Homo sapiens: one gene and its partners. The protein of the gene in region 5 purifies or fractionates together with the protein of the main gene of each other region. This does not show direct contact. Each region holds a gene or a part of one and is shown on either strand. Other genes may lie near its edges.

Region 1 (3,500 bases), on a different chromosome or scaffold from region 5:
GGGAGACGGAGGCACGAGAATCATTGAACCCAGGAGGCAGAGGTTATAGTGAGCTGAGATCGTGCCACTGTACTCTAGCCTGGGTGACAGAGTGAGACTCAAACAAACAAAAAATACATATATGTGTGTGTATACACACACATGCACACACACACAGGCACACAAATACAAATACAGTATATTATTTGGCAATAAAAAGGAATGAGGCAGGGTCCAGTGACTCATGCCTATAATCCCAGTACGCTGGGAGGCCAAGTTGGGAGGACTGTCGAGCCCAGGAGTTTGAGACCAGCCTGGGCAACATGGCCATGGCAAGGCCCCATCTCTCTACAAGAAATAGAAATAAAAAAATTAGCAGGGCATGTCTGTGGTCCCAGCTACTCAGGAGGCTGAGGCAGGAGGATCACTTAAGCCCAGGAAGTCAAGGCTGCAGTGAGCTGTGTTTGCACCACTGCACGCTAGCCTGAGCAGCAGAGACCCTGTCTCAAAAAATTAAAAAATGAAATTTTTTTAAAAAAGGAATAAAATGTTGGTACATCCTACATCATAGATAAACCTTGAAAACATCAGGTTAAGTAAAAGAAGGCAGGCCAGGCCCAGTGGCTTATGTCTGTAATCTCAGCACTTTGGGAGGCCAAAGCAGGCTGATCACCTGAGGTCGGGAGTTCGAGACCAGCCTGACCAACATGAAGAAACCCCGTCTGTACTAAAAACACAAAAGTAGCCGGGCATCGGCCGAGTGCGGTGGCTCATGCCTGTAATCCCAGCACTTTGGGAGGCCAAGATGGGCAGATCACGAGGTCAGGAGATCGAGACCATCCTGACTAACACGGTGAAACCTCGTCTCTACTAAAAATACAAAAAAATTAGCCAGGTGTGGTGGTGGGTGCTTGTAGTCCCAGCTACTCGGGAGGCTGACGCAGGAAAATGGTGTGAACCCGGGAGGCGGAGGTTGCAGTGAGCCGAGATCACGCCACTGCACTCCAGCCTGGGCGACAGAGTGGGACTCTGTCTCAAAAAAAAAAAAAAAATTAGCTGGGCGTGGTGGCGCATGCCTGTAATCCCAGCTACTCAGGAGGCTGAGGCATAAGAACTGCTTGAACCCAGGAGGCAGAGGTTGCAGTGAGCCGAGATCGCGCCATTGCAATCCAGCCTGGGAAACAAGAGTGAAACTCTGTCTCAAAAAAAAAAAGAGAAAAAAAGAAGCCAAACACACAAAGCCATAAATTGTATGATTCCATTTATATGAAATCCTCAGAATAGGCAAATCCATAGAGACAAATGTTGCCACGAGTTGTGGGCAAGAGGGAATGGTGAGTGACTGTTATAGGGTACTGGGTTTCTTTTTGGTTTGATGCAAATATTCTTCTATGTTTAAACTGATACATAGAATTACTGATTTTCCTAAAATGACAACAGAACCCACATATTTGTAACTGCACTTTCAGTCTTCTCTCCAAAACCAGTATCTCATGTGTGCATATCACTCACCTGGTCCTTTGGCTTTTGTTCTTTGATTAGGGGCTGCAGAGGCTTCACTGGTTCATTCTTTTCCCCAGTGACAATGTCAGAGGACCACATGGGAATCAGGTTTTCAGGCTGGGCACTGGATTTAGTGTTGTCCTGCAGCATCTCCTCTTCCACTTGAGAAATACTGCATATACCTCCTAACTCATTAGAGGCATCCAAATATCTTGGCTGATTCTCCTGAACAAAGCCATCACTCACTGAATCCCTCCCTTTTGCAGGTAAGATGTCAATATTTACGCTACTGATTGTGGCTAGTTCTGTGGTATTGCTCAAGTCCTGTTTGCAGGTATGGGCTTTCAGACTGGCAGGTGACTTCAAGAGACCAGAGGCCCTGGGTTTCTCCTGGGACAAACATTTGCCTTCACCCTGAATGAAAAGATGTTTGGAAATTATTATAGCACTCCTCATATCTTATACAAAATCAACTCAAAATGCAACAAGAGGTTCCTCAAAAAGTTAAACATAGAATTAACATATGACTCAGCAATTCCACTCCTAAGTATGTAATCCAAGGAACTGAAAGCAGGGATTTAAGTTAAGTATTTGTACACCAATGTTTACAGCAGCTTTATTTAAAATAGTCAAAAGGCGGAAACAACCCAAAAGTCCATCAGCAGATGAAGGGATAAACAAAATGTGGTAAATACTGCCAGGCACGGTGGCTCACACCTGTAATCCCAGCAGTTTGGGAGGCCAAAGCAAGTGAACCACTTGAGGCCAGGAGCTTGAGACCAGCCTGGGCAACATGGTGAAATCCCATCTCTACTAAAAATACAAAAATTAGCCAGGTGTGGTGGTGCATGTCTGTAGTCCCAGTTACCTGGGAGGCTGATGCGGGAGGATTGCTTGAGCCTAGGAGGCGGAGGTTGTAGTGAGCCGAGAGCCCGCCACTGCACTCCAGCCTGGGCAACAGGAGTGAAACCCTGCCTCAAAAAAAAAAAAAAAAAATATATATATATATATACACACACACACACACACACAATGGAATATTTCTAATCTATAAAAAGGAATGAAGTTCTGATACATGCTAAAACACGAATGAACCCTGAAAACATGCTAAGTAAAATAAGCCAGGCCAAGTGTGGTGGCTCACACCTATCATCCCAGCACTTGAGCTCAGGAGTTTGAGACCAGCCTAGGCAACATGGCGAAACCCCATTTCTATAAAAAATACCAAAAAATTAGCTGGGCATGGTGGCAAGTGCCTGTAGTCCCAGCTACTTGGAAGCCTGAGTGGGAGGATTGCTTGAGCCGGGAGGTCAAGGCTGCAGTGAGCCGTGATCACACCACTGCACTCCAGCCTGGTTGACACAGTTGAGATCCTGTCTCAGAAAAGAAAAGAAGTAAGCCAGGACAGGGCAGGGAGCAAGCAGGGGCAGGACTGGCACTGTGGCCAGAGATGCCGCTGGGCCACAAAGGTGATAGGCAGCTGGGAACTCTACATTGAAGGCACAGAGGTGAGGCACAATGCCCGGAAGGCTGGTAAATTGAATGCTGAGGACGGAAGAGTCTGATGACATACTACTGAATTTCTTTGTTTGGAGTACACATTATGTACTCTTTCTGGAGCATGTCTACAAGCTCTACATGGAAACGATCTGAAGCTGAAAACATTGGCAGGGGATGCAAAAACCAGTCTTTGATGAACTATGCCAAAGAAACAGCTGCCTTCTATTCCCAAAAATGCTTTGCCCATAACTAAGCCTACGGAGCCTGTCCCAGCAGCACAGTCAACAAATGGCATGCATGCTTCCTACAGACTCGTCCACCTGAAATACTCTCTTCTTGCTGAATTTACCTTGGTTGCGGAGCAGACGTTATTAGGTGTCTATGTGCAGCCATCTTATCCCTCTGTATTAAAGTGGTTTGGACTAATATTCATAGGGCACAGACTTTATCAAGATGGCATATTTAGGCCAGGCGCGGTGGCTCACACCTATAATCCCAGCACTTTGAGAGTCCGAGGC
Region 2 (3,500 bases), on a different chromosome or scaffold from region 5:
CTGTTTAATGCAGGAACGATGGCTTGAAAAATACTGAGAAGGGACTCAACTGGTATCATTTTCTACTTTGAATCACTGTATCTATCCAGATGTGGGCTGCAGTAGTGGATTTATGGATTGGGGAAAGTAATCGCATCATGTGTTCCCCCCTGCCCCGCCCCCACCATTAGATTATTATATTTAACAACAACAAAACTTCTGCAAAGCTGTTGAAGTCAAAGTGAACCAGTGGCTCCACCATTATCTTTTTTTTTTTTTTGAGACGGAGTCCCGCTGTGTTGCCCAGGCTGGAGTGCAGTGGCATGATCTTGGCTCACTGCAACCTCTGCCTCCTGGGTTCAAGCTATTCTCGTGCCTCAGCCTCCCGAGTAGCTGGGACTACAGGCGACTGCCACCATGCCCAGCTAATTTTTGTATTTTTAGTAGAGACGGGGTTTCACCATGTTGGGCAGGCTGTTCTCGAACTCCTGGTCTCAAGTAATATGCCTGCCTTGGTCTCCCAAAATGCTGGGATTACAGGCGTGAGCCACTGTGCCCAGCCCACTGTTATCATTAGACTATTCTTTTTAAAATTGTAATGGTGTGGGTAGCTTCAGTTAAGAAAAAAAAAGTCACAAAGATAAGGTGATGGATGTGTAATTGGCTTGAATTAGTCATTCCACACTGTAAACATGTATCAGAACATCTCATTGTACTCCATAAATGTATACAATTATGATTTGTCAATTAAAAGTAATATTAATTTAAAAAAGAAAAAAGACATCTGGGCTGTAATTGGCTGTGGCTTTTAAGATGCTGAAAGGGACCCCCTCAGTGAATTTCATACTTTTTTTTTTTTTTAACCTCAAGGCTCTAACCTAACCCCTGATTCTTATAGAATATGTTGAGGATGTAGTGATTAAAATCCAAGTTAGTGATTAAAGATGATTTTAGAGATTTTTAGGTAGAAACAATGTGTCCAAAATAGTAAGTTTAGCCTTTTAAAAAATCAGCTGCACTTTTTGTATTGTATATAAAATAGTTGCTTTATAGAATCAGAAATACAGATGTATTGAGTACTATGTGTCACTCTAGAAAGGTGACCATTTACTTATTCACATTTAAGAAGCGACTTCTCAGGTATGAAAAGCTTCAGCTGAAGCCAATTTTCTTTTTGTAAAAATCAACATTTTGTAAACATTAAAATGTCACTACATGTGCCTTAAACATTAAGGAAGATTTAATAGATGTCATTTAACTTACTCAAAAGGTTCATGAGACTGAATTACTATTATATGTAGGGTTTGGTTTGAGTCTAAAAGATAATGCAGCTTAGTTACAGAATGCTCAGACTTAGAATGCCTTTCCTTAGGATTTTAAAACTGAAATGATACCTAATTTAATCCAGTTTTATGTAGAGACACTTGATATATGTAGTGTTCTCTTTTGTTTTGAACATTATAAAAAAGAAACACCCTAGTCTTGTCTTTTCTGATTAGTGTCAAGGAATGAAGTATTTTTTCCATTGCTAACTGTTCTGGCAGTTATTGCACAATAAGTCATGTGCCTATATGTGTAATGTATATTGAGTAATCTTTATTTTTAACTGGGGCTTTTAGATATGTTATAGTTATTAAAAAATATCTAATAGGATTTGCCAAAATAATATAGGATAAATCTTATGGACATTATGTATTTTTTAAATGGAAGTATAAAAATTTGTCTACACTTTTGCACATTGTTGATACCTGAAAGGTTAATCCAAGGGAAAGTTTATTACTGCTGAGAATTAGGAAAAGAAGATATTTGGGAAGACTGTAGAAATATGAACCTAGAATCATTTTTTAAAGAGTTTGTAGAAACCTTGATTAAGTAGTCTAATTTTCCCCTCATTTTTTAGATGTGGCTAGCAGATCCAGTGAGGTTAAGTGGAATTCCAAGGCAACAAAGCTAATTCGTAGCAGAGATAGAATTAGAATCTGGGGCCAGTGTACTTTCTACTTTTCCCACCTCTTTAGATCCAGCTGAGGTTAGAACCATAGAACTGTGGATTGGGAGATCTTAATCCATTAAACATCTTTTTTGTATTTAATTTAATTTAAAAAATCAGCTGCAGTTTTTGTATCGTATATGAAATGTTTGCTTTATAGAATAAGAAATACAGACGTAATGAGTACTGTGTGTCTCTCTAGAGAGAGCATTTTAAATCCAGGCATCTTAAGCATACTGACTAACATTTGAGGACTATATATTTATCTATGAACATGAATTAGGAGAAGGAATGATAATCTGTGGAAAGTAAGAGTGGAATATTATGTTTGGATATTTAAATAACTGGCTAACAGGCATTACTGAGTTGTTGAACTACTTTTAGTATCTTTAAAAAGCAGAGGGAGATCAAGACCATCCTGGCTAATGCGGTGAAACCCCGTCTCTACTAAAAATACAAATAATTAGCTGGGTGTGGTGGTGGGCACCTGTAGTCCCAGCTACTCGGGAGGCTGAGGTAGGAGAATGGCGTGAACCTTGGAGGCAGAGCTTGCAGTGAGCCAAGATTGCGCCACTGCACTCCAGCCTGGGCAACAGAGCGAGACTCCGTCTCAAAAAAAAAAAAAAAAAAAAAAAAAAAAAGCGGAGGGCCAGGCGCAATGGCTTACGCCTGTAATCCCAGCACTTTGGGAGGCCAAGGCGGCCGGATCATGAGGTCAGGAGTTTGAGACCAGCCTGACCAACATGATGAAACCCCATCTGTACTAAAAATACAAAAATTAGCCTGGCGTTACTCAGGAGGCTGAGGCAGGAGAATTGCTTGAACCTGGGAGGCGGAGGTTGCGTTGAGCCGAAATTGAGCGACTGCACTCCAGCCTGGGCAACAGAGTGAAAATCCGTCTCAAAAAAAAAAAAAAAAAAAAAGCAGAAATAATTTTGTATTTGATTGTATTGCTTATTATTTAATTTCTTTGGAGGTAAGAATGGCAAAAACCATTTTTAAAGAAAATGGGCTGTGGTTCAAGTCTAGATGTTTTACACATCTGAAACTTGACTGGAGAAGCTAGTCTTCCAATAAGGTGGTCTTCAAGTATAGATTCTGAGTTGTGGAAAATGAGGCATCTTACAAAGGAACATCTCTACCTTCCATAAAGTTTTCTACCCTTCATCCCCGCTCCAATTATTTGTTTTTCCTTGCAGACCAAGAATCTTGAAAGCCAAATGTTCTCATTAAGAAGCTGTTAGAGTGCAATAATGCATTCTAAATGCCTGTCTTAGAAGATATTTCACAAGTTAATGGATTTTTTAAGTTTTTCAAAGATATAGTAAGTGGATGGTTACTGAACATGGATACAAAATACATTGAACCTATAAAAAAGTTACTCAAATATTATTAAAAAATTTTTTTTCTGAAATTTTTTTTGTGTTATCAAAACAATACAGGCTCATTAGCGGAGATGTGAAAAGAATAGTATAAGGTAGAAGAAGCCACTTATTTCTACCATCCAAGATTAACTACTGTCAACATTAAA
Region 3 (3,500 bases), on a different chromosome or scaffold from region 5:
GTGAGCCGGCTGTCAGCATTATCAGGGCGCAGTGACAAACGGAACTCTACTCGGCTGGTAAACATGCGGTATGGTTCACTGGTGCCCAGAGTAGTGAGGTCATCAATCAAGACTCCTATGTAACCTTCTGTTCGGCTAACCACAAAGGGAGGCTTGCGACTGACCCGAAGACTGGCGTTGATTCCGGCTATCACACCCTACAAGAGCACTGAAATGTTTAAAAGGCCATTATGAACTAAACAAACGGCTATCCCATTCAGAACACTACTCAGAAACAATGGCATGGGACAGGAAGAAAGCAAGTATTGCCCCTAAGGGATATAATAGAGGTAGAAAATGTGATCCATATTCAGAAATAGAATATGGGTAATATATCACTTTAGAAGGCTATGATTCATTGTTTTCAGAGATATCCATCTAATCTTCCTGATAAGCTGCACTCTGCGGGGACTAATCTTTTTTTTATCCGGAGACAGGGTCTTCCCCTGTTACCTAGGCTGGGGTGTAATGGCATAATCTTGGCTCACTGCAGCCTCGACTTCCTGAGTTTAAGCAATCCTCCCACCTCATCCCCCCAAGTAGCTGGGACTATAGGCACATGCCGTCACACCTGGCTAATTTTTACATATTTTTGTAGAGATGGGGGTCTCACTACATCACTCAGGCTGGTCTCGAACTCCTGGCTCAAGCAATTCTCTCTCCTCAGCCTCCCAGAGTGCTGGGATTACAGGTGTGACGCACCATGCCCAGCCGGTTAATCTTTTTTTTAAAACCCACCTGTGAAACTTCTCTAGCCTTTTCCCACTTGCAAATAAAAATAAAATAATTTCTGACTTACAAGGAATAATAATATAATAATTTCTAATGAAGTATATTAAAATAAATTTTAAACTTCACAAGCAATACATCTAATCAAAATATGATATCACACAGGAGCTCAGAAAAGAGTAATAAAGCCATAGTGTTTTAATAATCCTATTATTGGCTGGGCAAGGTGGTTCACACCTGTAATCCCAGCACTTTGGGAAGCCAAGGCAGGTGGATCACCTGAGGTCAGGAGTTTGAGACCAGCCTGGCCAACACAGTGAAACCATATCTCTACTAAAAATGCAAAAATTACCTGGGTGTTGTGGTGCATGCCTGCAGTCCCAGCTACTAGGGAGGGCTGAGGCAGGAGGATCGCTTGAAGCTGGGAGATCATATCACTGCACTCCAGCCTGGCAACAGAGCAACACTCTGTCTCAAAAAAAAAAAAAAAAAAAAAAAACCCTATTATCTACAAAAGCCATCTCCAAACACCCTGAAACATAAATTGTCTTCTATTAGTATGAATTGTATCTAAGATCTACATAGTTAACACAACAGACATTAAAAGGAGAAATACCAGTTAAATAGTCCCTTTCAGTTTACATTAATATCTTAACTTCTTACTTGAGCTGCAGCTTCCTCATAACCAGTGGTGCCATTGATCTGTCCAGCAAAGAAGAGTCGTTGAACCAAATGAGTCTCCAAGGAAGGGGTGATCTGACGGGGATCTAAGTAATCATACTGAACACCGTAGCCTGACCAAAGAACAAAGACATTAAATAAGTAAATACAGAGCTGGATTTGCTCAAGGTAGAGATGCAAGCATTACCCTTAAATGCCCTTTAAAAACAGACTATTTAGGTCAGGAGCAGTGGCTCACACCTGTAATCTCAGCACTTTGGGGGGCCAAGGCGGGTGGATCACCTGAGGTCGGGAGTTTGAGACCAGCCTGACCAACAGGGAGAAACCCTGTCTCTACTAAAAATACAAAATTAGCCGGGCATGGTGATGCATGCCTGTAATCCCAGTTACTCAGGAGGCTGAGGCAGAAGAATCACGAACCTGGCAGGGGGAGGTTGTGGTGAGCCGAGATCGCACCATTGCACTCCATCCTGGGCAACAAGAGCAAAACTCCGTCTCAAAACAAACAAACAAACAAACAAAAAACAGACTATTTAAAATGTATAGGTGTTGGGCTTCATCTTCTGAGGCTCTGAACAACAATGACTGTAGCTAAGGCCTCCTCACTGACCATTAAAACAATGCTGACCTTATACTGAAGGGCACTTGTGATCTTCTTTACCTGGCTGAATCACTTTAGCTTTCTCCAAGCCTCTGATGCATGTGATCATTTTCTCTTGTAACTCAGCTGGTAGCGTCATAGATAACCCCTGTGGGTAGATAAGGTCAGAATCCATTCCTTCAGGTTCCAACCAAACCTGATGTAGACGGTTTGGAAAACGCAAAACTTTTGATTCAATGGAGGGACAGTATCTAGAATAGAACATTTAAATAAACTTGAAATGAACAAAAGAGGATTGACGTCATTCCTTAAAGTAACTGAGCACTGACATTTTGTCCTTACCGAGGTCCTCTTGTCGTTTCTTTAACATGACTATTAAGGTGAAGGTTCTTAAGGACAATCTCATCCACTCTAGGGTTGGTGTGAGTCAAGTAACATGGCAGCTGATCTTCTGGCTAAAAAACAGTAACCAGATGCAATACTGATTTGCTTATCTACTAGTTTCTCTCTTATCCAAATAAATTCCACATGATACGTACTGACTTTAATAGACACTAAACTTGTGCATAATGCCTAGTATTACTTATGAAGTATTCTTGCCAAAAATAAACATCCCAAAAGATGAAGTTAAATTTAAGCAAAACTCTAAATCTAACTAGCAGTTTAATTTTTTTTTAATGTTTTTATTTTTTGAGACGGAGTCTCACTCTGTTGCCCAGGCTGGAGGGCAGTAGCGTGATCTCAGCTCACTCCAACCTCTGTGTCCCGGGTTCAAGCGATTCTCCTGCCTCAGCCTCCCAAGTAGCTGGGATCACAGGCATGCACCACTACGTTCGGCTAATTTTTGTATTTTTGGTAGAGACAGAGTTTCACCATGTTGGCCAGGCTGGTCTCGAACTCTTGACCTCAGGCGATCCACCTGCCTCAGCCTCCCAAAGTGCTGGGATTACAGGTGTGAGCCACCGTGCCTGGCCATGGTTACTTTTTTAAAAAAGTTATTGCCAAGTGCAAGTGGCTCACACCTGTAATATCAACACTTTGGGAGGCCAAGGCAGGTGGAGCACGAGGTCAGAAGTTTGAGACCAGCCTGGCCAACATGGTGAAATCCTGTCTCTACTAAAAAGACAAAAATTAGCTGGGCATGGTGGCGGGTGCCTGTAATCCCAGCTACTCGGGAGGCTGAGGCATGAGAATCACTTGAACCTGGGAGGCGGAGGTTGCAGTGAGCCGAGATTGCACCATTGCACTCCAGCCTGGATGACAGGGCGAGATTCCGTCTCAAAAAAAAAAAAAAGAAAAAAAAAAAGTGTTTTTGTGCCCACCCAGGGACTCCTTGCTTTGTTTGGGCTGGGCGCCGTGGCTCACGCCTGTAATCCCAGCACTTTGGGAGGCCAAGGTGTGTGGATCACCTGAGGTCAGGAGTTTGAGAACAGCCTGGTCAACATGGTAA
Region 4 (4,035 bases), on a different chromosome or scaffold from region 5:
GCTACTTGGGAGGCTAAGGCAGGAGAATTGCTTGAGCCAGGAGGGTGGAGGCTGCAGTGAGGCCAAGATCATGCCATTGCACTCCAGCCTGGGTGACAGAGCAAGACTCCATCTCAGGAAAAAAAAAAAAAAAAAATATATATATATATATATATATATATACACACATATATATTAAGTTAAAACCCTACTGAAATGAAACCAATAAAATAAAATTCAATTTAATTAAAAAATAGTTCCTGAAATATTAATTTTCAAACAATTCTATTTTAGCTTTGACTCTGAACAAAATATAAACCTCAATTTCAAAATATCACAAAGATTGGCTGGGGGCAGTGGCTCACGCCTGTAATTCCAGCACTTTGGGAAGACGAGGCAGGTGGATCACCAGAGGCCAGGAGTTCCAGAGCAGCCTGGCCAACATAGGGAAACCCAGTCTCTACTAAAATAATACAACAAAAATTAGCCGGGTCTAGTAACCCCAGCTACTCAAGAGGCTGAGGCATTAGAATCGCTGGAATCTGGGAGGTGGAGGTTGCAGTGAGCGGAGATCATGCCACAGCACTCCAACCTGGGCAACAGACTGAGACTCTGTCTCAAAAAAATAAAAATAAGGCCAGGTGCCGTGGCTCACACCTGTAATCTCAGCACTTTGGGAGGCCAAGGTGGGCAGATCACTTGAGGTCAAGGAGTTTGGGACCAGCCTGGGCAACACAGTGAAACCTCCTCTCTACTAAAAATACATAAATTAGCTGGGCATGGTGGCACATACTTGTAATGCCAGCTACACCAGAGGCTGAGGCAGGGGAATCGCTTGAATTCGGGAGGTGGAGGTTGCAGTGACCTGAGATTGTGCTACTGCACTCCAGCCTGGAAGACAGAGTGAGGCTCCGTCTCAAAAAAAAAAAGAAAAAGAAGAAAATTTAAATTAAAAATTTAAAAAATCACAAAGACTACAAATACTCAGGTTTAAGCAAATTCCCACCTTTCTTGAATTAACAGTAATTCATATTTGCTTTGTCATAAATGTAGATATTTACCTGCCCCAATGGAATGAAATCCTAAAAGCCTAGTGTTCCCAAATGATGAAGAGAAAGAAACATGCATATTTTAATTTAGAATTTTGATTCAGAATTAATTTTAACCTAGCTGGAGTATACATAATCATTTATGTATTTATTTACTTATTTAAGAGACTGGGTTTCATTGTGTTATCCAGGCTGGAATGCAGTGGCACAACCTTGGCTCACTGCAACTTGTACTTCCTGAGCTCAAGCGATCCTCCCACCTCAGCCTCCAGAGTAGCTGAGACTGCAAGTGCACTCTACCACACCCAGCTAATTTTTGCGGAGACGAACGAGTCTCGCTATGTTTCCCACACTGGTCTCTAACTCCTTGGCTCACTACAGCCTCAAGCCCCTGGGCTCAAGCAATCTGCCTCCCAAAGTGCTGAGATTACAGGAGTGAGCCACCGCACCCGGCCTAGTGGATAGTGTATACTAAGCAACATGTACCCTGCTTTTGCCTAAAACATACTGAAAACATGGCATTGAACACAATCACAAAGTTGGGAGCTGAGAAAAATCATATACTGTAAAATAAATCTGAGATATTAATCTCAAGAAGCTCCTGAAAATGTCTCAAGAACTCCTATGCTGCACTCTCCCTAATAATTTAGACTTTCTACAGATATTTTCTGATCATCTACAGTGTGTCAGGCACCATGCCAGGTACCAAGATGCCATGGTGAGGTATACACAAAACCGGCTCCTGCTTGCAGGAAGCCTACTCTCTAAAACAGTGCTTGCCAAGCTCGCCTGATCACAACTTCGGAGCTTGTTTAAGTTCAAAATCGGCTTCCCTGCTGTGGTGAGCCACAGTCCGTGGCATTTTGATCAGGTGCTCCCAATGATTCCTACGCTCTAACGGGTTTGGGAGGCAAGGGTGGGGGTAAGCTCGAGAGCCCAGAGACATCCCGTCCAGCGGGAGCCCCACCTCTAAAGTCCATGTCGCTCAGCATCCTTCCCCCTGACTAGTGGCCCAAACACAGCACGAAGCTGAGGTGGGTGGAACGCTTTTCAAAACAACGCTCTTTGATGAGCCACCGACAGACTTGCTCGCCTCCGGGGACGAAGAGCTCACTCCTCACAAACCCCACCCCGGAAAGGTAGCACCTGAGCATCCCGGGCTGCGCCGACACCTGTCTCACCGCGGGTGCCGCTTACCGCTCCGGTGGACTCCAGTCCCCAGATTCCGCCCCACGGGGGCTGGGGGAAAAGGGGAGGCGCTGGGCGCATTAGGCGCTGACTGTATACCGACACCCCCCACCCCGGTGTGCGCAGGCCAACACCCATACACACCCTCACACACCCACACACATCCACACACACTCTCGCGGAAACTGAGCCAGGCAGGCGGCGGACCAGGTCCCGCCGCCTCACGGCTCGCGGCTGGGATCGAACCCGGACTGCGAGACGCCTTCCGCCTCGCAGGCGCTCCTCTGCCGCTGAGGCCCGGCCCGGCTCCCACCGCCGGAGTTTCACAAAGAAAGTCTCCCGGCCCGAGCCCCTCACGCACTCACCGGCGCCGACGCCGGCGGCGACTCTGGCTCCCGCCGCCTTCGGCTCCTTGCGGGGGTCGGCCCTTGGGTCGGCTCGGGCGCCGGCGGCGGCGACTGCTCCATCCCCACGGGGCCCGGGCCGCGTCCGCCTCGAGCTAACGGTCCCGCCAGCTAGGCGCGCGCGCCGGTTCCGCGCGCCATGTTCCCGCCGTGCTGCGCGCCGCCGCGGCGCCCCTCACTGCCCCCAAACCGCGCGCGCGCCCCCGCGGGCCCACACATGCACCGCGCACGCGCGCGTTCGCCGCGCCCCCTCCCCGCGCGCCCCGCCTCGCGCCCTCTGGAGCTGGCCGCTGTTCCCAGTGTCTCGCCCACCCCCGCCGGGCCCGTCGGACTCGGCGGGTGAGCGCGCGGTTCCCGGCTCCGCACCGCCGCCTGCCTCTCTGCAGACCACCCCGGACCCGACCCCTCGGCCATTTCCCCACACTGCCGCTTTCGCTTCCCCCACGACGCGGGGCCTGGGACGACGGTCTGGGCCAAGAGGAACTTCCCCGCAAGAAGTGTCGAGTTAAGGACGCTACTAAGGGGGCGGGATCGCCATCGTGGAGGTGTGCAAGCACGTGCCTGCGTCCCGGAGACAGCCAGACTCAACGGAGAAGCTGAGTTCAAGTCCCACATCTCCACTAACCCTTGCGTGTTAGGGTCAGGGCTTCGGGACTTGTTTCTCCTAAATCTTTTTTTTTTTTCTTTTTTGAGACGGAGTCTTGGTCTGTCACGCAGGCTGGAGTGCTGTGGCGCGATCTCAGCTCACTGCGAGCTCCGCCTCCCGGGTTCATGCCATTCTCCTGCCTCAGCCTCCCCAGTAGCTGGGACTACAGGCGCCGGCCACCACGCCCGGCTAATTTTTGTATTTTTAGTAGAGATGGGGTTTCACCATGTTAGCCAGGATGGTCTTTATCTCCTGACCTCGTGATCCTCCCGCCTCGGCCTCCCAAAGTGCTGAGATTACAGGTGTGAGCCACCGCGCACGGCCTGTTTCTCCTAAATATAAGGACTCAATATAATAATAAGAGAAAGCCTCAGCACCGCGCCTAGCACTTAGTAGGTAGTGATCAAGAGAGAAGACCTCTTAAGTGGTTTTAATGGTTAAGGACCACAGGTTCTCAAGAAAGGGAAATCTCAATTCAAGTCCCGCCTCCATCTCTTGAAAACTGAGAAACCTTGAACAAGTCACTCAGAGGAGCCAAAGATCCTTGATTTCTACATGTGCAAAAGGGGAGTGTGGCAGTAGCACTGCACAGGGTTGACTGAGCTTTCAGGGAGATGATGACTGTACGATCATGCCTCTCTTAATCACGGGATGGTTCTGAGAAATGCCTCCTTAGGTGATTGCGTCATTGTGCAAACAGCAAAGTGCATTTACACAAACCTTGTATAGCCTTGTATAGCCTACTACACACCTAGGCTGTATGGCGTAG
Region 5 (3,500 bases):
ACGCGCCCCTCCCTCAGCAGCCGCAGCAGCCCAGAGGTGGACGGGCCTGGGAGGCACCCTCAGCTCCACAGTCCCCAAAACACACCGGCTGGGGACGGGGCCACCCGGGTGGCCATGTGGCAGGTGGGGCACCTGGTGGGTCTCACGTGGACACGTGCATCCTCGAATGCTCCGGTCACGCTCCACACGCGCCACAGACACAGGCCACACGCTCCACACGCCACAGACACGGGCCACACACTCCACATGCCACAGACACGGGCCACACACTCCACACGCTCTACACACTCCACAGACACAGACACACACGAGGCAGAGCAAAAAGCAAAAAGGTGGAAAGAAACCACATGGCGCAGGATTCCAGTCAAGATGTCGGCAAGGAGTCACTCATCCAAACTCAGGTGCCTGAAGACACGGCTGCAGGGCGGTGCACGTACATGGAGCTGGCACGCACACACGCAAGTGCACAGGCCGGTACCCACGTGTACACAGCACACACACGTGAACAGGGCTGGCAGAACACAGATGTGACTGGGCTGGTGCACACACGCATGTTATCAAGTTCTGGCTCCTGAGAGAACAAGGGCAAGACGCCCAGTGCCCAGACCCTGGCTTCCAGCTCCAGCCACGGGAGACAGGGCTTCCTGGAAAGGCGGCAGCTATTGCACTGGGGCAGGTGGCACGGAGGCGAGCCCAGAGCATCTCACCGTGCCAGGAAGCGGGAAGGAAAGCCTGGAGCATCTCGTGGTGCAGGGAAGCGGGAAGGAAGTGAAGCTCAAAAGCCCCTAGGACAGGGCACCTCCCCTCTGGATGCTCTTTCCAGAAACCCTCAACCCTGTACGGTCAGGAGGAAACATGGCACCTCCCCTCTGGGGGCTCTTTCCAGAAACCCTCAACCCTGTACGGTCAGGAGAAAACACATCCCACAAGCCCAAACTGAGGGACAGCCTAAAACCTCCTACCCAGCCCTTCTCAGAACTGTTACGTCCTCACAAAAACGGGAGAGTCTGAGACACCGTTCCAGCCCAGAGGAGACAGAGGAGACAGGACAGCTGAGTGAACGTGGGTCCTGGAGGGACGGGGCCCTACGCAGGAGAAGGGCGAGAAGGGACCCGCGTGTGGGAAGGGAAGTCTAAACACCCACAGCGGCCGCTGTCGCCGCTCGGCGCAGGAGTCAGGGAGACCCGGAGACCTGCTGTTACTTCCCACTCCCCATGCCCACCTCCTCAAACGAGACAGCTTGGGGTTTCGTTACAGGCACCAAAAAGAAACCCCGGTCCAGCTGGAGACGCACCGAGCAGAAGCCTCAACTCCCCTCGCCCAGGCGTGCAGCCCACCCCCAGCACCGGCTGAGCAGGGACGGGGACCCTTCCCCTGTGATGCCGCGAGCCAGGCCTTCGTGAGCTCAGGGGTGGTGAACCTGACAGGCCCCAGGGGCACCAGCAGCCTCTTCGTGGGTTGGTCAGCTCACCACCAAGTGAACTCAGGCCACGCAAGGACCCCCGAACCGTACCATCTGAGGAGAGGTGCAAGGGGACACCACACCTGGTGCCCAGGTCCTCCAGCTGGCACCGTGCCTCCGTCCCACCAGCTCACCTGTGCTCCGCCCGAAAGCCTGGATCCTCAGGGCCCTCCCGCCTGGCCCTCAGCCCAAGGGCCGTGGCACAGCCAGACCAGTCCTCACACCTTTCCTACCTGCTCCTGCACCCCAGGACCCCAGCCCTGCCCAATCCCCTTGCTCACCAGCTTTGCCACCTGCCCCTCTGCACTGGTCCTGGAGCACCAGGCCCGGCGGGAAGGCGAGCTCGTGGCCAGGCCCTGCGGGAAGGCGAGCTCGTGGCCAGGCCCGGCGGGAAGGCGAGCTCGTGGCCAGGCCCGGCGGGAAGGCGAGCTCGTGGCCAGGCCCGGCGGGAAGGCGAGCTCGTGGCCAGGCCCTGCGGGAAGGCGAGCTCGTGGCCAGGCCCTGCGGGAAGGTGAGCTCGTGGCCAGGCCCTGCGGCGGGGGCTGCCTCCTTGTGCCCAGGTCTCGCAGGTCCCAGGAGGCCCAGGGTGTTCTCTCACCTGCACCTCGGCTCCCTGCCCGGCACCCTGGCTGGCCTGGGGGACTCACGGGCACGCCCTGACCCTGCTCTGCCTCCAGGGGTGAGGCCAGCGCTGAGTGCAAGTAGGTTCCAGGGCCACACCGCAGGGCACCCCGGCCGTGCCGTAAGGAGTAAGGCGCCCGTGCAGGACCTGGCTCCTTGTGGGTGAGTGGTCAGGTTGACCCATCTTGGACCCCTCACAACAGGCTCTCGAGACTCAGGGATGGGGTCGGGGGAGAAAGCTCGGCACTAGGCACAGAGGCAGCAAGAGGGTCTCGGGACTCAGCAGGGTGGGGGCAGTGACGGCCAAGGATGGGCCACTGACAGCACAGCTCTGCTCCCGACCAGGCCAGCAAAACAAGCCAACCCCACACACCCCCAGCCTGCGTGTGATACGCGGCCCGTGTGTGACAGGGACCCCAAACACACAGGGTAGAGGGCGTGTCAGGAGGAGCCCAGAGCACCCTGTACCAGCTCTCCAGCCACCTGTGGCAGCCCCTCACTCCTCAGCCAGGCCTCGTCCAACTGGGGCTGCAGCCTGCGGAGGCTGCCCGTGGCCGGCGTCTGCCCCTCAGCATGGAGGACGCTGACCACTGCAGTGCCGCGTGGGCTCCTCCAGGCTGTCCTAGGGACGGCCACACAGGCCCACTCTGGCCCTCTGAGCCCCCGGCGGACCCAGGGCATTCAAGGAGCGGCTCTGGGCTGCCAGCGCAGGCCTCCGCGCAAACACAGCAGGCTGGAAGTGGCGCTCATCACCGGCACGTCTTCCCAGCCCGGCAGGTCCCGACACAGGGCCCGGCGCCCCCCACCGCGCAAAGCCAGGATAGGAACACACAGGCGAGCGCACGCGGACAGCCCCCCAGTCTGGGCACATGGCGGCACCTACTTGGAAAAGATGACCATCAGCTTCCTCCGGCTCCGCCGCGGCTCCGCGTCCTCATCAAAGCCACCCAGGTCCTTGCCTAGGAAGACCTCCTGGTGGAAGCCGCGATTGAGGTGCCCGTCCATCTCCAGCTTCACCCCGTTCAGGTGGTCTGGGGGCAGGATCTCATTCTCCTCCCTGTTGGCTACTCTCTCTCGAGTGGACGAGTGGTTGGCAGGCCGTGCAGACGCGTCCATCAGAAGGACTGCCCCCAGGAGCCAGAGGCAGCACGGAGCCAGGCCAATGAGGGGACCCCACCTGGACGCCATCGCCACCCAGGGCCAGACCATGGGGCGGGCTGCAGGGTGTGGGCCAGGTGCTGGGAGGGGCAGGGGCAGGGGCAGAGGAGGAAGTGAGGTCCTGGCTCCAATCCAATCCCCGGGCACCACGGAGGGCTCTGTGTCCCCAGGACGGCCGCAGGATGGGGACAAGCAGCTCACAGTCTGCAGAGAGACACAGACACATCATTAGCAAGACTCAGCAAAGACTTCCCCAAGC
Region 6 (2,530 bases), on a different chromosome or scaffold from region 5:
GGAAGATGAAGATGAAGAGCAGGCTGGTGGTGAGCGGGGGTCCTCGGTGGGGGACAGCACCTCGGAGGGCGTTGAGGGAGGGAAGCGGAAGTGGCTACCACCCGACGGCACTGGCGGGGCACTCTGGGGCACTGCACCCCCTGGCAGAAGGGAGACAGTGTCAAGGCCCCTGGCCTAGCCTGAAGGGGCATGTAGACCCTCTCCACACCAACCATCCCTGGTACTCACCAGCCAACCCCACATCAATGAATGGGTAATTGACCAGCACCAGTTTGTTGAAATTGAACTTGTAGGTGAACCGTTTCCCCTTGGTCTTGTGCAGAATGCGCTTGTTATAGTAATAGCTGTGGGTACAGAAATGCCATTGGGAAGGTCAGGTACGTGGGACCCAGGTCTAGACTCCACACCTTAACACGCACTTAGGTGTGGTTCCCAAAGGCCAACTGAGGAACGTAGGCCACAAAAGACAAATCAAGTGCCCAGAGGGTGGGTACCAGCTCTCTCCTCACATCTAAGGCAGGACTAGAGGATCCACTGGTGACTGTAATCTCTCCTCAGGATACGTCTGTGTTACCAAGGGGCTCAGGGAAGGGCTGGGAGTGGCCCAAGGTCACACAGCTAGGATTTGGCAAAGCCAGGGGTCAGACCCAATGCTTGTTCCCACAGGCAAGGGGCTGTGCAACCCCGGGGGGGCACTCCACATGTGCTCAGGGGTCCCCAGCCCGTCCTCACCGCAGGGCCCGGCTCAGCTTGTCGTAATTCATCTGGGGCTTGCACTTGCGAACGCCCCACAGCCGGGCCACCTCATCAGGGTCTTTGATGACGAATTCCCCGTAGTCCCCCTGCCAGGCAATGACGCCCTGGTACTCCTCCTTCCGCAGCAGCTCCAGGATAAAGTGCCACAGCTGGATCTGCCTTGAGCCAGGGGACGACTCTGGCTTGTAGGCCCAATCCGGGAAGGCAAACCCTGGGGACGGGAGGCAGGGAGTGGCCTGGGGTCAGGCTGCCAAGTCCAGGGCTCTGGGTCCCATCCCAGGGTCCACCTCTGCCCTGCCTTCAACATGGGGAAATCTGTCTCACCTCAGCCAAGTCAAGATCTGATTTAAGAGAAGACAGTGCGTGTCTGTCTGTCTGCATGTGAGGGGCTAGACAGGAGCTGGGGGGGAGGGGAAGCTGGAGCCCGCTCCAGCGACACCGGGAGAAACAGGAAACCGTCGGCGGTGGGTCCCGGGGCCAGTGCCAGGGGGCCAGGCACCAAGCCAGGCTGGCGGGCAGGGCTGCCAGTGGGGGAGGGGCAGGAAGGGGCACACGTGGCCAGCCGGGTTGGGGTACAGCCCCCCAGCTTACCCCCACTCCCATTCAGAGCCAGTTGCACCACCCCAGCTCCTCGGATGTCCTCCTTAGAAACATGCACTGTCTCCTCCGAAGACCCAACAGAGCCCCTACTCCCAACCCCAAGACCTGAGAGGAAGATTTTTTTTTTTTTTCTTAAAAGGACCAGGAGGGGTGGGGTGACTCGGTTGCCGATGAGGTCAGCGCTTGCACACACAGAGGCTTCTGTCTTCCCTGGAGAGTGAAACCCAGACTGTCTGAGAGGCCCCCCAAGCCCTGGACCCTCTGAGCTACACTGCCCTCCCCAGACCCAGGCATCCAGGCCCCACCTGGCTGGAGGGCCCAGCCCAGGCCTGGAGCTTGAGCAGGCACCCTGGAGCTGTCACCCTCTTCCCACTTCTGCCTTCTCATCTTCAGCTCCTTCCCTGCCCACCTGCCTGCCCACCCCCAGCATTAACCTTGGGTAGAGGTTGGCGGTGGGCTGGCTGGTCTCTGGAGGGGGTGGGCAGCCTGGGGTGGGGGGTGGGGGGTGGGGGGACTGCGGTTGTTGTCATTTCCCAACAACAGGGGCCATCAATAATTCAGCACCAGGCAGCCGGTAATGGAGGGGTGGGAGGAGGGAAAGGGGAGGAAGGGAAGGAGTGGGGAGGCAGAGCAGGGTCCCTGGTGCCACTAGAGAGAGAAGGCCAAGGTGGCCAGCTAAAGATGGGCGGCTCCCAAATCCAGTCAGGCTGCAGGGGTCAATCCGCCTCCCTTGGCCCCAGCTCAAACAGGTACCAACAAGGCCTCCAGGCAACACATCCACCCTCAAAGACTCCACCCAAGTCTGGAATCCAACAAGGGATCCTTCCCCTTGGGAATCCAGGGAATCAGTAGTTCCTGCTCCCACAGGGACCACCCCCTCCAAATCCAGAGCTCACTGTAGGCCCCCAACTCCTGCCCAGACTGGGCTGCAGTACCACATAGCCCCCGGAGTCCCTGCCCCATTCAGATATATCCCAGCCTTCCACCAGCCCCTCAGGGTGCCAGGGATATGACCTCCAGCTGTTCACAGACCAGCACCAACAGCCCCTGTTCCATTTAAAAGTGACAGCCTTTGACAACCCCTTCCAGAGACCCCAGAGCACCATCGCTCTCTTGGGAATCTAGGTGTTCAACCCATTATCCTCACCCTTCTAGAGAATCCAGATCACAAGGT
Region 7 (3,500 bases), on a different chromosome or scaffold from region 5:
CTGCTGAAATGCATCTCCATTTCATCTTGGCTCCCCGGTCCTCCCCAGCACTGCGTTTCTGTGCTGACGAATGAGCACTGAGAGGCTCCTTCCCTGCTTTCTGCTTCTGTCCTGCCGCTATGGGTCGTGGACATTTGCCATCAACAGGCTCCCTGTGGCCCGCGCCTCCTACTGGAGGCACTGAGGGAGGCGCTCCCACCAGCACACCGGGTTACCTGCTTGGCTGCAGGGGTTGTGTTGTGGGTGTTCTGGTTTTGGATGGGGGTAGAGGCCCTTTATAAAGTTTCAAGGGGTGAGCTGGAGTCTACTTCTCATCAAAGAAGCTGGAGGCTAAGACTGACACTATGCCAATTGGAGAAGACCAGAACCAGGGGCTCCCCTGCAGATCAGAAGCGCCTGACTGGAAACATAGCAGGGCGATGGGAGGAAAGACAGACTTGTTCCCTATGGGGCCCGAAGCCATGGGTCCGGGAAAGAGCTAGACAAAGCCAGCAATGAGTGATCTAGATCAGAAGTGGTGGCATGAGGAGATGAGCTTGGCAGGAGGGAGATGAAGGAGGGGCCACAGTCCCAGGCTATCTCTCAGATAAAGGAGGGCAGGATGCTGAAGGGCATATCAGGTCCCTCTGGGCCTGCTGGCACCCAGGCAAGATGTGAGGCTCGACCCACCATTTTCTACCAGGGGTCAAGCTGAATGGGCCAGGGACCTTGTCCTTTCCAGGAAGGGCTTAGAACTTCAGCAAGTTCCAAGCTCAGCCACAGGGAAAGGTGTCTGCAGGGCAGCTGATGCAGTCAAAAGTGCAAGGGGAGGAGTGACAGGAAGCGGGCAGAGACTCTGAACTGCTGGGGTGCAGCGTCTAGGCTGTGAGCTCCTAGGTGGCCTGGGGATCCCTGGCTGACTATGACCTCTGACCTGCAGTGACCTCTTGGCTCAACTGTCCCCCTTGACCATGACCCTCATTACTGTGGGTGCCCCCTGACCAACTGGGAAAGTCTGGTTGACGTGACCCTCTCCTGGGTGGATCCCAATGTGACTGACTGGGACCCTAAGGGGCTTGCTCCCCTTGACCCACAGTGACCCTTCTGCTGACTTTGACTGCAAGACTGGGACCTCTTGTCCAACTCCAACCCTTGCCTTGGTGGTCCAGGCTTTTCCTGACCACATATGACCCTAGGCCAGTGGGACACTCTGTGTCCCCTCCATGTCTGTCCCCCTCTGGCTGCCGGGACCCTGTGGTGGGTTGGGACCATTTGGTCACTGATGTCCTCTTGACCAAGGGTGACCCCTTGACTGAACCAGACTTTTTGGCCACTTGGGACCCTAATGACCCTCTGACTGACCCTGGTCCACTGAGTGACTGCCACCGCATGACTGGCTACGCTCTCCTGACCAACGGGACCCTCTTCGGTGGCTGGGACCCTTCATCCCCCTGGGCCTGATTGTGACCGGCTGCCCCCCATGTCCTCTGGTGCCCCAGCCCCTGCCCGCCTGGGAGCTGGCGTGGGCAGTGCCAGCCGGAGGCAGTAAGGAGTCACACTCACGCCCGGCTGCAGCAGGAGGAAGGCTGGTCGGAGAGGAAAGAGCATTGGACAACGACACGCGACTAGGGCTAGAGAGATTGGCTACATCCTGGCTCTGGCTGGTGACCGAGGACTGTCTCCGCAGGGCCCCCTGAAAGGAGGCCCCGCTCTTGAAAGTATTGACTACTTCAATCTGCAACGGAGGAGAGAACGAGACAAGTTGCGAGAAGAACGAGCACAACGGCTACATGACTGACAGGGCAACGTCACAAGAACAGCCGCAGCCACGGCAACAACGACAATGTCACTTAAATCAAAACAAAAATACCAGACACACTCCAAGGCTCTGAAAAACGTCTGCTCAGCTCTGGGCCCACCTGCAGGCCCCAGGGTCCCCGGGAGGACACAGGGGGTCCGGCCTTTGTCCTGTGCTAGTGGCTCAGGGGCCAGTGGGCTGGCCAGTGGGGGAGGCAGTGATTAAACATGGTATCTGGAGGGAAGAGAGCAGTGTTCAGCCTCCCTCAGGTACAGGCGTGGAGGTAGAGGGTGTGGTGGGGGTCCTGAGGTGGACAGAGCTTGGCCTAAATTCCAGCTCTGTCACTTACTAGCTAGCTGACCTTGGGCAAGCCACCTCTCTGAGTCGAGTTTCTTGTTCTTAAGAAGGGTCAATGCCACCTGCCTGGCAGGGTTATCTGTAAGTGGCAAAGCACCTGACCCGTGTTAGCATTCCGCAAGAGGCAGGCAAGACAGGCGCCCCTGCCCACTCAAGAAATCGCAGTCCTTGCTTCCTCCCGTAATCTGGAGACCCCTGCGTGGCTTTGCCGCCAGGGCAGTGACAGCACCAGGGACATATTCACTGAGTTGTCCTGGACCTCCCAGGAGGTGGGGGCAGGCTGGGAGGGGTGGCTGCGGGGCCCTAACCAGGGAGGGTGAGCCCAGGCCCGTGTCAGGCACCTCCGGGTCTGAAACCGGCTTCCAGTCCCCACCCCAGCTGTGCCAGCTCAGTAGAAGGGGCCATCTCCTGGACCTTGGTAACCTCTAAAACTGGGGGAGTCACATCTACCTCCCAGGGCTGTGAAGGTCACATGAGGTGAGGTTTGGGACAGGGTACAGAGGGGTGGGAGGTGACCCAGGTGAGCTCTCTGCTACATCGGATGGAAATGAGGTGCTGGGCCACAGCTGGCAGGATGGTGGCCAGGTGGCTGCTTCTACACTGCACTTCGCCCAAGCATGCTGGGGCATGGAGGAGCTCCCACTCCAGCTCCCCAGATGGTCTGGGCAAGAGACCCACAGAGTCCCTTCTGACCCTCCCCTCGCAGGGCTGTGACAGCACTTGTGAGCTACAACACCTGCTCCAGGCATAAGGGGACCATGTGAGAGCATGTGGTATGTGTGTGGGGGGGTCGGGGGAGGCGCGCAGGTGTGTCGTGTGCCACGTGGCAGCCATGCTCTCTCTGCTCTGGGGAAGAAACCTGCTTCTGGCTGGCTACGCCCTGCACCTGTGCTCCCCTGGTGTGCTTGGTGTGTGCATGTGTGTCTGTGTGTGCTTGAGGATGACTGACCTTTGCTCCCCAGAGCCTCTCCACCCCCTAGGGGAAGCTGGGGAGAGCAACTGAAGCCCCCGTGGAGGCGGCGGACCCCCTGACCACCACGCCCTGGGGGACCCTGGGCGACCTGGCCTGCAGCTTCTGTCCAGCCTCACACGGCCCCTGTGGGTGGGTGCCCCCAGCCCTGAGCGACAGTCCCCTCACTCACCTCTGCCCTCAGAGCCACCCTTCCCCACCCTCTCAGGGAAATCCCCCTGGAGACCATGGTGGGTGTGACCCCTACCACTTCCCCGTGCTGCCCTGAGAGGGCACAATGGGACCTCTCTGAGGAGGCCGTGCTGTTCCTTAGCAGCCACAGGAGTGGGTGTGCAAGTGGCTGGTGAGAGCTGGCCGGGACCCCTCTGTAGCCACCCTCCCTCAGCACCAGAGCTG

The links.
Region 1: the proteins of SDF4 (region 5) and NEK4 purify together in Homo sapiens (affinity purification with mass spectrometry; 3 studies listed by BioGRID and IntAct, with this or other methods). This does not show direct contact.
Region 2: the proteins of SDF4 (region 5) and ARL8B purify together in Homo sapiens (affinity purification with mass spectrometry; 3 studies listed by BioGRID and IntAct, with this or other methods). This does not show direct contact.
Region 3: the proteins of SDF4 (region 5) and MTO1 purify together in Homo sapiens (affinity purification with mass spectrometry; 3 studies listed by BioGRID and IntAct, with this or other methods). This does not show direct contact.
Region 4: the proteins of SDF4 (region 5) and TTC28 purify together in Homo sapiens (affinity purification with mass spectrometry; 3 studies listed by BioGRID and IntAct, with this or other methods). This does not show direct contact.
Region 6: the proteins of SDF4 (region 5) and ERF purify together in Homo sapiens (affinity purification with mass spectrometry; 3 studies listed by BioGRID and IntAct, with this or other methods). This does not show direct contact.
Region 7: the proteins of SDF4 (region 5) and ATP2B2 purify together in Homo sapiens (affinity purification with mass spectrometry; 3 studies listed by BioGRID and IntAct, with this or other methods). This does not show direct contact.

The regions. Positions count from the first base shown.
Region 1 is NC_000003.12:52,750,441-52,753,940, forward strand, and holds part of NEK4 (serine/threonine-protein kinase Nek4), read right to left. Parts: intron 3,459-3,500; exon of another isoform or gene 3,086-3,458; intron 1,897-3,085; coding exon 1,492-1,896; intron 1-1,491. UniProt on the Homo sapiens protein: Protein kinase that seems to act exclusively upon threonine residues. Required for normal entry into proliferative arrest after a limited number of cell divisions, also called replicative senescence.
Region 2 is NC_000003.12:5,125,292-5,128,791, forward strand, and holds part of ARL8B (ADP-ribosylation factor-like protein 8B), read left to right. Parts: intron 1-3,168; exon of another isoform or gene 3,169-3,500. UniProt on the Homo sapiens protein: Small GTPase which cycles between active GTP-bound and inactive GDP-bound states.
Region 3 is NC_000006.12:73,478,737-73,482,236, reverse strand, and holds part of MTO1 (5-taurinomethyluridine-[tRNA] synthase subunit MTO1, mitochondrial), read right to left. Parts: intron 2,506-3,500; coding exon 2,393-2,505; intron 2,302-2,392; coding exon 2,111-2,301; intron 1,945-2,110; coding exon of another isoform or gene 1,870-1,944; intron 1,563-1,869; coding exon 1,432-1,562; intron 1,241-1,431; coding exon of another isoform or gene 1,121-1,240; intron 209-1,120; coding exon of another isoform or gene 198-208; coding exon 1-197. UniProt on the Homo sapiens protein: Component of the GTPBP3-MTO1 complex that catalyzes the 5-taurinomethyluridine (taum(5)U) modification at the 34th wobble position (U34) of mitochondrial tRNAs (mt-tRNAs), which plays a role in mt-tRNA decoding and mitochondrial translation.
Region 4 is NC_000022.11:28,677,041-28,681,075, forward strand, and holds the start of TTC28 (tetratricopeptide repeat protein 28), read right to left. Parts: upstream 2,801-4,035; 5' UTR 2,684-2,800; coding exon 2,582-2,683; intron 1-2,581. UniProt on the Homo sapiens protein: During mitosis, may be involved in the condensation of spindle midzone microtubules, leading to the formation of midbody.
Region 5 is NC_000001.11:1,225,502-1,229,001, forward strand, and holds part of SDF4 (45 kDa calcium-binding protein isoform 2 precursor), read right to left. Parts: intron 3,446-3,500; 5' UTR 3,293-3,445; coding exon of another isoform or gene 3,272-3,292; coding exon 2,967-3,271; intron 1-2,966. UniProt on the Homo sapiens protein: May regulate calcium-dependent activities in the endoplasmic reticulum lumen or post-ER compartment. Isoform 5 may be involved in the exocytosis of zymogens by pancreatic acini.
Region 6 is NC_000019.10:42,249,599-42,252,128, forward strand, and holds part of ERF (ETS domain-containing transcription factor ERF), read right to left. Parts: intron 1,843-2,530; exon of another isoform or gene 1,791-1,842; intron 1,567-1,790; exon of another isoform or gene 1,348-1,566; intron 968-1,347; coding exon 733-967; intron 345-732; coding exon 229-344; intron 141-228; coding exon 1-140. UniProt on the Homo sapiens protein: Potent transcriptional repressor that binds to the H1 element of the Ets2 promoter. May regulate other genes involved in cellular proliferation.
Region 7 is NC_000003.12:10,334,587-10,338,086, forward strand, and holds part of ATP2B2 (plasma membrane calcium-transporting ATPase 2), read right to left. Parts: intron 1,715-3,500; coding exon of another isoform or gene 1,543-1,714; intron 1-1,542. UniProt on the Homo sapiens protein: ATP-driven Ca(2+) ion pump involved in the maintenance of basal intracellular Ca(2+) levels in specialized cells of cerebellar circuit and vestibular and cochlear systems.